Regions from separate parts of the Homo sapiens genome. Here region 1 is linked to region 2. Evidence: fine-mapped expression QTL. Tissue or cell type: whole blood. Region 2 holds a variant in brackets; the other region holds the start of a gene. All regions are shown on one strand. Distances are from middle to middle.

Evidence for each region. PIP is the estimated chance that this variant, and not a neighbour inherited with it, causes the effect.
Region 1: INPP5B starts here. The variant in region 2 is fine-mapped to the expression of INPP5B in whole blood (TOPMed, PIP above 0.99).

Annotation. Positions count from the first base shown.
Region 1 is chr1:37,942,351-37,950,454 of GRCh38, reverse strand. INPP5B (inositol polyphosphate-5-phosphatase B) reads left to right here and starts at 3,402. Exons shown (of 24, transcript NM_005540.3): 1 at 3,402-3,465; 2 at 4,121-4,203; 3 at 4,605-4,699; 4 at 6,562-6,659; 5 at 6,786-6,815. The coding sequence starts at 4,147. It overlaps LOC105378651 (a long non-coding RNA gene), which reads right to left. Exons shown (of 5, transcript XR_001737983.3): 4 at 6,543-6,720; 5 at 4,828-5,176. RefSeq lists enhancers at 1,171-1,844, 3,234-3,473, 3,051-3,580.
Region 2 is chr1:37,911,179-37,919,282 of GRCh38, reverse strand. The region is part of intron 7 of INPP5B (inositol polyphosphate-5-phosphatase B); the gene reads left to right. LOC124904043 (a long non-coding RNA gene) reads right to left here. Exons shown (of 4, transcript XR_007065876.1): 3 at 1,303-1,420; 4 at 627-992. Among named protein-coding and RNA genes, the nearest start is that of INPP5B, 32 kb to the left of the region's middle. The variant A/G (reference allele first, on the strand shown) is at 4,042.

The sequences.
Region 1 (8,104 bases), 31 kb before region 2:
CTACTAAAAATACAAAAAATTAGCCGGGCATGGTGGTGCTGGGCGCTTGTAGTCCCAGCTACTCTGTAGGCTGAGGCAGGAGAATGGCATGAACCTGGGAGGCGGAGCTTGCACTGAGCCAAGATCTCACCACTGCACTCCAGCCTGGGCGACAGAGAGAGACTCCACCTCACCACAAAAAAAAAAAACAAAAAAAAAAACTCTGCCTTCCTCATTAGCTCCCCAAGTCTGAGCTTTCTACCTTTGGTGCCCCACCCCCTCTCAGATTCCCCACTCCTAACATCCCCACCATTCCCCAGTCCAGCCCATCCAGCACTCCCCTCCCCAACAAGCTACAAAGAGGCCTGGGGCAAGCACCTGTGCTCATCTAGGCCGTGGTGGGGGAGATGTCAGGTTGTGAGCTGCCCACACACATCATGCTCTCCCTGGGGGCAAGGCAGGGGGTCAGGGCTTTACAGAGGTGTCACAGCACTTCCCCAGGCAGTCCTGCTCTGCTCCTAGGCCTAGCCCACCCGACGATCCCAGAGGACAAGCTACATTCCATTCCACCCCTGGTGACCACCACCTTGCCAGCCCTCCAGGGAAATGTGTCTCATTCTCACCTGCCTCCTCTAGGAAGTGGAGGCAGGAATGGACAGCGTGTGGTGGATGGGGCCAGTGACACAGGCATGATAGGGCTCCAGCCTTGCCTCTGTCCAGCATTTACCACCTGTTCAGTCTGCACAGAGCTCCCAAACCTCCTCCTGCTTTCTCTTCCAGAAGAAAATCTGTGCTACTTTCTCCTGCCAAGGTGGTGACTGTTTCAAAGGGCCGAAAGCTGTGGCCATGTGCCCTGAGGGCTTGGACTTCTGTGAGGTGAGCCCTGCGATGCTCCAAGAATTAGGGAGCTCTCCTCCCTCAGAGCTGCATGGCTTTCTCCTTCTACCTGGAGTGGGTAGCTCAGCAGTAGAATCTGGCTGGAGCTAGACCTGCTGGGAGCAGCCGTGGGGTCTAGCAAGCTTGACCCCCTCAGCTCTGCATGATGCCAACACCAAAGGCAGCAACTGGAATTTTCCATACCTCCACGATGTGCCCCTTTTTTTCTGACCACCCTGTATGTTCACTAGGAACTCACTGATCTTGTGGGCAGGAAGCTAGGGGTCCAAGGAGGTTGAGCTCAACCCATGACCCACTTAACACTTTCTGCCTTTGAGTGGGGAAGAGGGGCAAGGGGAAGATGAATGGTCCCACCTCTTCTTGCAGCTGAAATGCTCCAGCTCAGGTTACATTGCAGGCTGCAGCCAGGCCTGTGAAGCAGGGACCTCCCAGTGTCATGGGGCTGTGGCCCCACCCTGCTACCAGGAGTGCTGTCAAGCCTCAACCTCAGGCAGCTGCCTTCAGCTGGATGGGAAACTTCACTTCAACCAGGCAGCTCCTGGGGCCACCAGAAACCCCCTGCACTGGGCCCTGGCTGTGGCTATGCTACTTCTCCTCCACTCTGCTCTGCTCCTATTCCTGCTCCCCTAGCTGGGCCCAGCAGAATCTGGGAGCAGCAGTCAAGAAGACCCTGTAGGATCTACAAGCCTTCAGGTCCCCCTCCAGCTCTGATTCCTGTAGTTGCATCTTTAGTAAAAGGCCTTTATCAAGCCCACAGCTCTGGGCTTAAGGCTCCTCACTTCTCCCCTTCTAGGGCCTAGGCCTGACCATGGAACCCCCCAAGGGGGCAGGCCCTCAGCCCTAATCTCAGGGAGAGGATAGGGTTTGTCTGGAAAAACAGAAAACCTCCTGCCTGACCCCCACCCAGTGGGAGGACCCCCAAATCCTGCAGGGACAGTTTCTTCATCATAAAAAGCACACAGCCCCATCTACTTTGCCCAGACCCTCCTCGCCAGGCTTTGACACTAGAGCAGGGCTGGAATTGGGGTTCCTCTGCTTCCCTGCAGTGACCCCACCCCTTGATCCTAAGGGTCTGAGTCAATCCCCTTTCCCCTCATCGTCCACATGACTTAGACACTGAATTCAAATAAACTTGAGCTCCATTTGTGCTGTGGATGTTTCCAGGAAAAGAAATGGATTGAGAAGAAGGCAACGACTGTTTCTGGAAGGGGTTTACATATGCAAAGTTGAACTGGTCATTAGGATGGCCACTTCACTTGGGGAAAGAGGAAGGGAAACTGTTCACAAGTCACAACAGTCACCCCCTCCCCAGCACTGAAGGCCCATTCCTTCAGTTTGGGCCAAAGCTTGAGAGAAGGTGTATTTATTAAAATAGTTCAGAAAGTAATTCACTAACTCCATAGATAACTGTGTGCCAGAAACTGCTGGTATGTTGATGAAAAGGCATAGTCCTGTCCAACGGGAGCTTACAGCTTAATTAAACAGCCAATAGGCCAAGTGAGAATGATCCTAGCATTCCTTATCTGAGCTGGGTGAGCAATCACAGCTCACTGCAGCCTTGAACTCCTGGGCTCAAGCAATCCTCCCACCTCAGCCTCCCAAGTAGCTGGGACTACAGGCATGCACCACCATACCCGGCTAAATTTAAAAAAATTTTTTTTTAGAGATGGGGTCTCAAACTCCTGGCCTCAAGCGATCCTCCCTCCTTGGCCTTCCAAAGTGCCGGGATTACAGACATGAGCCACTGTGCCCAGTCCCTGTGCTGGCTCTTTTTGTCCATCTTGGGTAACCTCCTTATCTTAGATGGGGAAATTGAGTCCCAAGGGAAGAAAGGTCTTGGCCAAGGTCACAAAGCCAGGCGGATCAGGGGAAGGACGTTGCCGGACAGGAACAGTGTCATACCCTTTATAAAGTGCGTTCACACCCAGTAGCCTCAAACAGCCCTGTGTGGCAGGAGGGCTGGGTGGGGCTAAGGGAGGAAATAGGGCAGTGTGTAGCGGTATAAATGGCCCAGGAGTTGCAGTCAGACTTTCAGTGGAGTCCCAGTGTTGCCACCTGCTAGCTGCAGGACTTAATGTCAAACTGCTTAACCTATCCAAGGCTCAGTTTCTCCACCTGGAAAATGGACATAATGGTTCTTCATAGTCTGGTTCTCCCTCCATTAAACCAGGAGAAGGTAGTTATTTTAGGGGAAGAGTTTCAGTAGAGGTCCGGGTTGTCTACCCTGGAGTGAGAAGAGCTGAGGATGGAACTAAGGAGAAAATAAAAATGCATTATATTCTTCCCCTAAGATAAAATGTGACCATCTTCCTTCTGGGTGGGAAGCTCTGGCCCCATGACCTAGAGGGCTGGGGATGGGAGTGAGGGCAATCATTAGAAAACCTTTCTGGTATAGGAAGCCCAGTGTACCCCAGGGCCTAAGGGGTTAACACGGATGGAGAGACTCCCCACCCCACGATTGACTCGGGCATGCTGGGACTTGCAGGCTGACTGACCACCATGTGGCGCAGGGGCTGTTGGGAAATGTAGTCACTGTCCCGGAACCTGGGGCAGCGGAGTCCCGTGCGCCCTGTGGTGACAGCTCAGGAGGTAGGTGACAATGTCAGGGAGCTGTGGGTGGGAGCAGAGCAGGAAAGCCAGGGCAGGGCTGGGCAGGAGGGAGTGGGCAAGCTGAGGGCTGGGACACCCCCCAACCCCCGGCCTGCAGCTGATGCAATGGGCCTGCTGGGGCGGGGGTGAAGGGCAAGCAGCAATGGGACACTTCCTGTCTCCAAGGAAAGAGGAATGGGACCCTCCTGAATGACAGTAAGGGGATGTTCCCTGAACCCCACATGGACACACCACTGACACCTCCCAGAGAGGCGCTAGCAGAACAAAAACTGTCCCCAAAAGAGAGGAAGAGCCATGTCCTAGGAGCAAAGGGACTAGGTCCCCTTCTCCAATCCACGTACCCCACTTCCAACAAGGATAGACCACACTCAAGAGCAACTGGATGCCCTCCCAGACAAAGGCAGTATAGCAAACTGTAGATCCCAGCGGGGCAAAGGGACTGGACCCCTATCCCTAAAAACTGAAAGGCCTATTCTAGGGAGGACAAAGAGGAGGAGGAGGAGGATCAGGCCTCCCCGGTACCATCTCCCTCTGCAAAGGCCCCTCCCTCCTGCCCCCAACCCCTCTGAGGCAGCTCCACCACCCCATGCGTAACTTGTTGACCAAAGCGGGGCTCCTATCTCCCCTCCCACAGGGTGTGTGCGCTCAGCAGGGGCCAGCATGGACCAGTCTGTGGCAATCCAGGAGACGCTGGCTGAGGGGGAATACTGCGTCATCATATCCTTCCTGTGCTAACTGCGGCCCTGAGCCTGCCCTGGCCTTGGGAAGAGGAATGGAAGGTGTCGAGGTGTCTATCCCCTCTCCTGCCCCTCTGAACCATCAGGGGAGAAGGAAATCAGTATTTACTAAGTACTTACTGAGTCCTGGACTCTCAGCCAAATGCTTTAAATACGCAGTTATCCTCCTAACTCCCTATGAAGTTGGGGATTATTATCCTCATTTCATAGATAAGGAAGGCTTAGAGAGCCTGTTTGTCTGTTAGTTCAGCACATGGTTTGAGTGCTCACCCAAGGCCACACAGTGAATCTGGGGGGGCAGGGGAACAGAGGGAAGGTGGGACAGCCTGGGTGGGGAGAGGCCTCGCCTCTGGGTTGTCTTCCCTTGACTCTGAGCCGCAGGCGGTGCAAGGTGTGCTGTGTGAGGGGGACAGCCGGCAGAGCCGCCTCCTGGGACTCGTGCGCTACCGCCTGGAGCACGGCGGCCAGGAACACGCGTGAGTGAGGGGCTTGGTCCCCACCTGTCTGGGCCATGGGGTTGTTCATCACTGCACCCTCCAGCTGAACTTCAACTGTCCCTCCAGGGCAGGGTCTGAGTCTCCTAGAATAATTATCACAATGATAGTTAATATTTTTTGAACACTATATTTTAAACCCTGCACACGTACTAACTCATAATCCTCAAGATCTAAGGAGGAAGTTTCTTGAGAAGAGACAGTTTAACATACTAGTCCAGATCTTGAGCCTCGTGGTCCAAATGCCTGGGTTCAAACCCAGGCTTTGTTACTAACAAGCCACATGATCTATTGTTTGTTTGTTTTGAGAAGGAGTCTTGGTCTTTGCCCAGGCTGGAGTGCAGTGGGGTGATCTTGGCTCACTGCAACCTCTGCGTCCCAGGTCCAAGCAATTCTCGTGCTTCAGCCTCTTGAGGAGCTGGTATTACAGAGGTGCCCGCCACCATGCCTGGCTCATTTCTGTATTTTTAGTAAAGACAGGGTTTCACCACGTTGGCCAGGCTGGTCTTGAAGTCCTGACCTCAAGTTATCCACCTGCCTTGGCCTCCCAAAGTGCTAGGATTACAGGCATGAGCCAGCGTGCCCAGCCTCACATGATCTTTTTTTTAGAGACGGGGTCTCTTTCTGTCACCCAGGCTGGAGTGCAGTAGTGCACTCATAGCTGCATGCTGGAACTCCTGGCCTCAGGTCATTCTCCCACTTCAGCCTCCCAAAGTGTTGGAATTTTAGGCATGAGCCACCGCACCTGGTGGAACCACATGATCTTGAGCAAGTTGTTTTACTCCTCGATTTGTCCATATTAAAGAGTAAAGTGAGTTAGGCCAGGTGCAGTAGCTCATGCTTGTAATTCCAACACTTTGGGAGGCTGAGGCAGGAAGATTGCTTGAGCCTAGGAGTTCGAGACCAGCTTGGGCAACATAGCGAGACCGCCCCCCCTACCCCGCCCCACCTCCCGCTCCCCGGCTCCATCTCTACAAAAAATAAGAAAATTAGCTGGGTGTTGTGGTGCATGCCTGTAGTCTCAGCTACTCAGGAGGCTGAGGCGGGAGGATCACATGAGCCGAGGAGTTTGAGATTACAGTGAACTACGATTGCAGCCTGGGCAACACAGCAAGACCCTGTCTCTATAAAAAAAAAAACAAGAAAAAAAAAACGAACACCATGGGGTGTGTAGAAAGTGCTCAATAAGGCTGGGTGCAGTGGCTCATGCCTGTAATCCCAACACTTTGGGAGTCTGAGCTGGGAGGACTGCTTGAGTTCAAGACCAGCCTGGGCAATATAGTGAGACCCCTATCTCTATTTCAAATAATTTAAAAAATATAATAAATAAAAAAAAGAAAGTGCTCCATAAATGTTGTCTAGTAACACCCACATACCACACAGAAGCAGAGAGAGAGTAATAGTTGTCAAAGGTCTCATAGCTGGTAAGTGACTCAGGGTCTAGGAGCTGGGAGGGAGGGGGCCTTAGACATTTTCTGATCCATCACCCCAGTTTTACAGATGGGAAACAGGTTCAGGGAGAGAAGTGGGTAGCTAAGGTTGCACTGTTCCTGTCACACACAGTGCTAGAATGCACCATGGTTAGATCAAACATGTGTTTGTGTTTTACTAACAATCAGGGGCTCCTGCAGATGAGAAAAGTTCTGGTTTGATGACCTCATCCATAAAACTGCAGTCTCTGATGGGCACCACAGACAGAGATGGCATGAGGAGTGTGCCTAGCCAGGGCACCACCAGCACAGTGTTAGGGACCAACGAGCGAGTGTGAGCACCCCGAGACCTCCAAGATAGGGCTGAGGGACAGCCAGCGGGCCCCCATCCTCACCTCTGCTTCCTGCCCTTAGTCTCTTCCTCTATACGCACCGGAGGATGGCCATTACCGGGGACGATGTCTCTCTGGACCAGATAGTGCCAGTCTCGCGGGATTTTACGCTGGAAGAAGGTGCCACAGGGGGCTGGGTGGTATGAATCCTCTCCTATGGGCCCCCCAGCTCATCTTTGTCCTTGATGGGGGGGCAAGGGGGAGTAAGCTCAATTGCTAAGGGCATTCTCATTTCCCTCCCCACAGTGTCCCCAGATGGTGAACTCTACATCCTTGGTGAGTGGTCCTCTTGGTCTGGGTCCCACTCGGGGCAGGGGTGCCTGATTTTCAGAGAAAGAAGAATGGTGTAAAGTAAGAGCACCCCCTGCTAAACTTATTGCAGCAAGTAAGACCCTGTAGGATCTGGCACAGCCCATCTCCGTGGGCTCATCTCCCATCACTCTCCTCCTTGCTGCTGTTTCCGTCTCCCCCGATAACACACATTCTCACCCCGGAGCCCCTGCACACGCTGTCCTCTCCTCCTGCAAGCCTCACATCTCTTCACCTAGCCAACTCCTACTCAGCCTTCAGGGCTTCCATTCATGCATTTCTCTTCCCAGGCAGCCTTTGTTAAACCCCTGAAATTAGGCCAGGGCAGTGGCTCACGCCTGTAATCCCAGCACTTTGGGGGGGCCAAGATCACGAGGTCAGGAGTTCAAGACCAGCCTGACCAACATGGAGAAACCCCGTCTCTACTAAAAATACAAAATTAGCCAGGCATGGTGGTGCATGCCTGTAATCCCAGCTACTCGAGAGGCTGAGGCAGGAGAATTGCTTGAACCTGGGAGGCGGAGGTTGCCGTGAGCCAAGATCGCACCATTGCACTCCAGCCTGGGCAACAAGAGTGAAACTCCATCTCAAAAAACAAACAAAAAACCCCCAAAAAATCCTGAAATTGTTTTGTATCCCATGGATACATGTGTCTGTCCCTCCCTCCCTCCCTTCCTCTCTCTCTCTCTCTCTCTTTCTTGACAGAATCTCACTCTGTCACCCAGGCTGGAGTACAGTGGCATGATCTTGGCTCACTGCAACCTCCGCCTCCCAGGTTCAAGTGATTCCCCTGCCTCTGCTTCCCAAGTAGCTGGGATTACAGGCACCCGCCACCATGCCCAGCTAATTTTTGTATTTTCTGCAGAGGCGGGGTTTTGCCATGTTGGCCAGGCTGGTCTTGAACTCCTGACCTCAGATGATCCACCTGCCTTGGCCTCCCAAAGTGCTGGGATTATAGGCGTGAGCCACCACACCTGGCTTGCCTTTTTCTTATTTTTGCCAGCCTCTCTCAATCAGTGATGTAATTCTTTATATTGACATATTTAATGTCTGTCTGCTTTGCTATACAACAATAATAATAATAGAAGCAAATAATGAGTTAATGATTATCCCACGCCAGCATTGTGCTAGAAGTTTTACATACACCAAATCACGCTTTTCTCTTTTTTGTTTGAGACAGAGTCTCGCTCTGTTGCCCAGGCTGGAGTGCAGTGGCGCGATCTCGGCTCACTGCAAGCTCCACCTCCCGGGTTCAC
Region 2 (8,104 bases):
GACCTAATAGGTGCTCAGGAAGGGTAGAACGTGATCTCCACCCAGCAGTGACAGCCACACTCCCACATATCCTGTACAGACTGTGCTGATACTTTTGCTTGGTTATCCAAACAGATTTAAACCTTCTATTCACATCGTACTTACCCTTGGGAGTTTATAGTTTCATTGATGATGATGTCCTCATGCATGCAAAATGGGAGGCTGTGGGACTTTGGAGTCAAGCAGATCTGGGTTTTAATGTCAGCTGCACCATTTACTGGCTCTATGTCCTTGAGCATGTCTGCTATCTGCTCTAGGCCTCAATTTCCTTATTTGTAAAACAAGGCTAATAATCAGACACAATGCATGAAGCATTGAACGTATTACCTAACTATGAGAGGTACTTGATAAATGGTAGTCATCATTATTAAAGCAGTGGGGGATTAGGAGTGATGGAGAAGAGGGAGAGGAACAGTTCCTGAATGTCTGCTGTGTACCAGGCATTGTGCTAGGTTCGTGACCCATGTAGATTGTATTTGTTTATCCTTTTGAGGTCTCCGTAAATATGGTAGCATTACTTCCATTTTACAAATGAGGAAGCAAATTAAGTAATTTGTTTGAGGTTTCATAAGAGGTGATGGATGGAGTCAGTAACATCACCAGCTCTATTTTATTCCAAAGCCCAAGGCATTTTCCAAAACAGTCTAATGTTTCTTAAAGTGCCAGACACATTATATAGACAGGAAGACACTCAAAATTCAGAGAAATGACTACTGAGAACTTATGTGGCTGGGGAGGGCTTCATGAAGGAGGAGGTGGGAGTTGAGGCTGGGCTTCGAAGGAGAGGTGGCCAAAAAGTAGGAGTAACTTCATATGAAGGCAGGAGTGCGGATGGCATGTGTGAAGAATCTATCCTTTTAGATCAGGCTGTCTTTGGGTGATGGATTGATGAAGGAGAGTAGAGCCATTTGCAAAGGGCGTCAGATGCCAATTGAACCAGTTTGGGTCTTAACCTGTACAGGAAGATTTAGAGCAGAGAGATGAAATCAGAGTTTAATCAGGCCAAGTGCAGAGGCTAAATGGGTAGGGAGAAGTGGGAAGATCTCTTAGTTGGGAGACTCCTGAGGTAGCAAGTGAGGAGATGGTAGCCTGGAGGAAGGCAGCTGTGAGACTGAAGAAATGGATGACTAACTCTCTCTGGGGGGCCAAGGAGAGAGGTGAGCCGATGGCAAGACTGTACACCTGGCTGATAGGAAGAATGATGGTGCTGGTAATAGGCGGGAGAGCTCAGGGAAAGAGTCCAGAATCAGACTACAGTTTTACCTGGGTCCCCCCTGCATACAGAACGTCTTGTAGAAATGCCCAGGGGATGGTGGAGGTGCTGAGCTCAGACAGGGCTGGACAGCCTCATTCATAATCAACCAGGATGGCTGGTGGGTTCCTTGTAGAAGAGGAAGAACAAGGTCTAGATTTGCACTGTCCAATGTGCTAGTCACTAGCCATGTATGGCTATTTTATTTATTTATTTATTTTTAAGAGATGGGGTCTTGCTATGTTGATTGACTAGGCTAGTCTCGAACTCCTGGTCCCAAGCCATCCTCCCATCGTGAACTCCCAAAGTGCTGGGATTACAGGCTAAACTTAATTTAGGTAAAATCAAATTAAAAACTTCAGTTTTTTGGCTGGGCACAGTGGCTCATGCCTGTAATCCCAGCACTTTGGGAGGCCTAGGCAGGCTGATTGCTTGAGGTCAGGAGTTTGATAGCAGCCTGGCCAACATGGTGAAACCATGTCTCTACTGAAAATACAAAAATTATCCGGGTGTGGTGGCGCATGCCTGTAATCCCAGCTACTCGGGAGGCTGAGGCAGGAGAATTGCTTGAACTCAGGAGGCAGAGGTTGCAGTGAGCCGAGATCGCGCTACTGCACTTCAGCCTGAGTGATAGAGCGTGACCCTTTCTCAAATATATATATATATATATATATATATATATAATTATTTTTTTTTTTCCCCCGAGACGGAGTCTTGCTTTGTCACCCAGGCAGGAGTGCAGTGGCACAATCTCGGCTCACTGCAACCTCTGCCTCCCGGGTTCAAGCAATTCTCCTGCCTCAGCCTCCCGAGTAGCTGGGATTATCGGCGCCCACCACCATGCCCAGCTAATTTTTATATTTTTAGTAGAGACGGGGTTTCACCATGTTGGTCAGGCTGGTCTCGAACTCCTGACTGCCTGATCTGCTTGCCTCGGCCTCCCAAAGTGCTAGGATTACAGGCATGAGCCACTGGGCCCGGTCTCAAGCCATATTTTAAGTGTTCAATATATATTGGACAACACAGTTATAGAATATTTTCATCATCAAAAAGGTTCTATTGGACAGTACTGGTCTAGGGCTTGAGGAGTACCTACAAATAACTAAGGGGCCTCGAGGAGGAAATAGAGCAAAAGGAGGCAGAAGGAGCAATTGAATGAAGAAATAATGTTGCTGCCTCTCAGATGATTCTCAAAACAAATGGGGTATTTCCATTTTGGTTTGAATTTATTTATTTTTTCTTTGTATGATGGCATGTTTTAGAAAAAGCCCAGACTGGCTGGACGCAGTGGTTCACGCCTGTAATCCCAGCACTTTGGGAGGCTGAGGCAGGCGGATCACCTGAGGTCGGGAGTTCGAGACCAGCCTGACCAACATGGAGAAACCCCATCTCTACTAAAAATACAAAATTAGCCGGGCGTAGTGGCGCATGCCTGTAATCCCAGCTACTCGGGAGGCTGAGGCAAGAGAATCGCTTGAACCGGGGAGGCAGAGGTTGTGGTGAGCCGAGATCGTGCCATTGCACTCTAGCCTGGGCAACAAGAGCAAAACTCTGCCTCAAAAAAAAGAAAAAAAAAAAAATGAAAGAAAAAGAAAAAGCCCAGACTGCAGTGGCTCATGCCTGTAATCTCAGCATTTTGGGAGGTCGAGGTGGGCGGATCACTTGAGGTCAGGAGTTCGAGACCAGACTGGGCAAGATGGCAAAACCCCATCTCTACTAAAAGTTCAAAAATAAGCTGGGTGTAGTGGTGGGTGCCTGTAATCCTAGCTACTTGGGAGGCTAAGGCACAAGAATCGCTTGAACCTGGGAGGCAGAGATTGTAGTGAGCCAAGATTGCACCACTGAACTCCAGCCTGGGTGACAGAGCGAGACTCCATCTCAAAAAAAAAAAGGAAAAAGAAAAACCCAGACACCAATTCAGTGGTAGGCCTGGCTACCGGATGTTAAAATCAAGGCCTTGCTGCCTATCTTTGTTTTATAGGTCTGGGCCTTCAACAGATCTTATTTGGCTTCTAGAACACCTCTTGGTCATGCAGTGAGGGATACCCTCAAGTTAACTATGGGAAAAGAAGACAGCAATTGTATGAGGCAGACACTGTTATCTTATTCACATGAGGAAGCAGATGCTTAGAGAAGTTAGATAACTTTCTCAATATAACGTGTCTTTGACTCCAAAGCCTGTGTATGTATATAAAACACAAAAAACATGTTATTATAGCTAACTATAGGAAATACATATAAGCAAAAAGAAAAAGAAATCTAATCACTGAGAAATGACTACTGTTAACATTTTGCTGTGCACCCTTCCAGACTTTCCATGTGTCTGTGTCTGAGTCCATACAAATACAGCATATGTGAATATTTATAAGTGTGGTATCTATGCACACAGACATATACTCCAGTCCTTTCTAATGCATATAGGTATTGTCAGGCCATGCTCATTAACTACCATCCTCAATCCCTTATCAGCAGTTCTGAAGTCCTGAAAGCTCTGAAGGCTGGAACAAATTTTTCTTGTAAGTTTGACCCAAGCTCAATTTGGCAGTAAGACTTGCTTGAACTGACATGAGACTATTTATAGGCTTTGTTTCTCTCACTAAGTATTACTCTTCGTAAGTTATACTGTGGAAATATGAAAGCGTTTGATTAACTGGGTATTGCCTCAGACCCTGCTGGGGTTGTTATGTAGTATTTGATACAGGTAATGTGTTATCTTCCTAAAATCTCCCACATTCTGAATTCCAAAATGC[A/G]CTTGGCCCAAGAGGCTTCAGATAAGGGCTTGTGGGTCTATATTAGGCTATGTTGCTGCTTGGGCTGAGGAAGGCACCTCAAGGGTCAACACTGTCTATTTAGTGAGGCATGTGAGAGTTTTGGTTCTACACAATATGCAGTACAAAGCACAGAATTTGCAAGAAAAATAGAACACTTGCACTTTTACACATCGCAATCAAGCTGCAGTTGTTACTGTAGCTTGTTGACTTACTAGGTAGGCTGCTCCTAGGGAAATGGTTTCAATTGTCGGCATGAAAGGTGGTCAATGAGAGTACACAGAAAAATCACACTGAGCTTAATCTGCCTGGGGACTGTTTGTTTAGGGTGTGTTTACTGACTGCCTGGTGTGTGCCATATATTGTGGTGAGCTGGGGCCAGAGATAGCACATTGGTCCCTGCTTCCAAGAAGCTAGTGGTCTAGGTGTAGAGGTAAGACAGATAAGAACAATTAAACCCAGGTATGATCCCATTATCATAATGGAACCATTATCATGCCTTGATGGAAGTAAGCACTGAGTTATGTGAGAATGTATGGAGGGGGCCAGAGAAAGTTTTTTGAAGATAACTCCTGAACTGAGTCTTGAAGGATGAGTTTGTAGTTCATCACGTGAAGGTGGAATTGGGATATGGAAAGATATACCCAGGATCAGGGGTGGAGTGAATAGGCAGTGTGTGAAAAGGTAAGTTTGGTGTGACTGGATTGGGAGGTAAGAGAGAGAAGCTTCCAGTGGGGATGGGAAATGGGGCTGGAGAGGAAGTCTGAAGCTATTTATAAAGATCTTTTCATGCAATCCTCAGAGGTTTGGGTTTTGTTCCAAAAATTGTTACCGGAAAGGGGTCCCGAGCCAGACTCCAAGAGAGGGTTCTTGGATCTTGAGCAAGAAAGAATTCAAAGCGAATCTATAGAGTAAAGTAAAGGCAAATTTATTAAGAAAGTAAAGTAATAAAGAATGGCTACTCCATAGACAGAGCAGCCCTGAGGGCTACTGGTTGCCGTTTTAATTTTTTAAAATTTCTTGATTATATGCTAAACAAGGGGTGGATTATGTCACGTGCTTCCATGTGAAGAGTCCACCAACAGGCTTTGTGTGAGTAACAAGGCTGTTTATTTCACCTGGGTGCAGGTGGGCTGAGTCTGAAAAAGGAGTCAGCAAAGGGTGGCAGGATTATCATTAGTTCTTATAGGTTTGGGATAGGTGTACAAAGTACATTCTCAAGGGCGGGGAGAATATTACGAAGCACCTTCTTAAGTGGGGGGGTAGAATATATCCTATCAGTTAGGGTGGGGCAGGAACAAATCACAATGGTAGAATGTCATCAGTTAAGGCTATTTTCAGTTCTTTTGTGGATCTTCAGTTGCTTCAGGCCATCTGGATGTATACATGCAGGTCACAGGATATGATGATTTAGCTTGGGCTTAGAGACCTGACATTCCTGTCTTCTTATATTAATAAGAAAAACAAAACAAAATGGTGGTGAAGTGTTGGGGTGGCGAAAATTTTTTAGGGGCGATGTGGAGAGATAATGAGCAATGTTTCTCTGGGCTGCTTCGAGCAGGATTAGGGGTGGCATGGGAACCTACAGTGGGAGAGATTAAACTGAAGAAAGATTTTGGGGTAGGGGGTGATATTGTGGGGTTGTTAGAAGGAGCATTTGTCATATAGAATGATTGGTGATGGCCTGGATGCGGTTTTGTAAGAATTGGGAAACTAAACGGAAGACACAAGGTCCTAATAAGAGAAGGAGAAAAACAGGTATTAAAGGACTAAGAATTGGGAGGACCCAGGATATCCAATTAGAGAGTGTCCAAGGGGGTTCAGCGTAATTATTTGATTGGTTGGCGAGTTTTGGGGCTCTATCCTTGAGTTTTTTTATGTTGTCATATACCAGGCCAGATTGATTTAGGTAAAAACAACACTCTTCATTTAAAAAATGTTTTTTGTTGTTTTTGTTTTTGTTTTTTGAGACAGACTCTTGCTTTGTTGCCCAGGCTGGAGTGCAGTGGCGTGATCTCGGCTCACTGCAAGCTCCGCCTTCCGGGTTCACACCATTCTCCTGCCTCAGCCTCCCAAGAAGCTGGGACTACAGGCACCCGCCACCACGCCCAGCTAAGTTTTTGTATTCTTAGTAGAGACAGAATTTCACTGTGTTAGCCAGGATGGTCTCGATCTCCTGACCTCGTGATCTGCCCACCTCAGTGTTCCAAAGTGCTGGGATTGCAGGCATGAGCCACTGCGCCTGGCCCAGAGTCCCCCTTTTTTTTTTTTTTTAGCAGTGAGTAAGTCGAGGCCTCTGTGATTTTAGAGGAAAGAGAAATGCAAAGCCAGCAATTGTTTGTTAAAGAAGGTTTAGAAACAGCTAGGAGAGAGTGAGTGAGATTGATAGTGTGGTGGAGATAGCTGGGGAGAGGTAGAGGATGGCATAAGAATGGGAATGAGAATAAGAGTGAGTATAAAAGTAAAGAATAGGACTTCATCAGGGTAAAAGTATCGGAGGGTGCCCTGTCAGCAAAGTTCATCTATCCACTCTAAGAGGGAGTCAAGAGTGGCGGATTGGGGATAGTACCAGGAGATATCCGCTACAATGGTTTGGAGGAAAAGCGTAAACCAGCAGTGTAAACAAGGGCAGGGCATTTACAAGTAGTTGAGAATGGTGAATAGGAGTATGACTAGACAGAAGATAGGGATGACAAGTTTTTGGGGCACAGAACAAGTAGTGGGGGTGACTGCGTAAAGCCCTATTGCAAAAAGTAGGGTAAGGATGAATAGACCTAATAGAATGAAGGGTTGTATTAGGCTCATAAGGGTTATTACTGCTCTTCAGAAATGCAAATAAGTTTAAGGAAAGTAGGGGTGAACACTTGTGACTTCCAGGAGGAAGAGGAGAGATCAGGCTGGCTGTTTGACGGGCACAGCTTTATTCTGGAATGATGAACCTAATGGTGGGGCATCCTGCAGACGAACAGCCATTGGGGTACTATAGATGACTAAGTGGGGTCCAGTCCATGGAGGTTGTAGAGTTTGAGGGGTCAGATTCTTAACAAGAACTGATCATCCAGCTAGGGTGTCTTCATATGGCTGGGAATCTGGAGTAGGCAAGAGAAGATGAGCAGCCTAGCGAATTTCCTGTCTAGCCTGCTGGAGGACTGGAAGATAGTTGCCTAGAGGGCTGGTGTCTGGGACGAGGTCAGGGCTGAGCAAGAAAGTGCGTCCATATAAAAGTTCAAATGGACAGTACCCTGTAGCATCTCGAGGACAGGCTCTAATTCTGAGAAGGGCAAAGTACTGTCCAGTCCTGGCCGTGAGGGACAGAAGTTGGAAAGCTAGCTGCTTCTTTAACTACCTTATCAGCATAAGCGTTGCCCTGAGCAGTGGGATCTGATGCCTTTTGATGGCCCTTGCAGTGAATGACTCCAGCTTCCTTTGGAAGTAAAACAGCCTTGAGAAGAGTATTTATTAAAGAGGCATTAATGATGGAGGACCCTTGAGTAGTGAGGAAACCTCTTTCTGCCCATATAACAGCATGGTGGTGCAGGATATGGAAGGCATATTTAGAGTCAGTATAAATATTGACTCGTAGTCCTTTTGCAAGAATGAGGGCCCAAGTTAAGGCAATGAGTTTAGCTTGCTGAGAGGTAGTGGAGGGGGTCAGAGTGGTAGCCTCAATGATAGATGTGAAAGATACTATAGCATAGCCTCCCTTTGCTGGTGAGTGGCGATTAGGCCTGGTGGAACTGCCATCAATAAACCAAGTGTTATCAGGGTGAGGAACAGGAAAGAAGGAAATATGGGGAAATGGAGTGAATGTCAGGTGGATCAGAGAGATACAGTCATGGGGATCAGGTGTGGTATCCGGAATAATGTGGGAGGCCGGATTGAAGTCTGGGCCAGGAACAATAGTAACTGTGGGAGACTCAACAAAGAGTGAGTATAGCTGAAAGAGCTGGGGGGCAGAAAGTATATGCGTCAAGTGTGAGGAGGAAAATAGATTTTGAAAGTTATGGGAACTGTAGAGAGTAAGTGGAGCATAGCTTGTGATTTT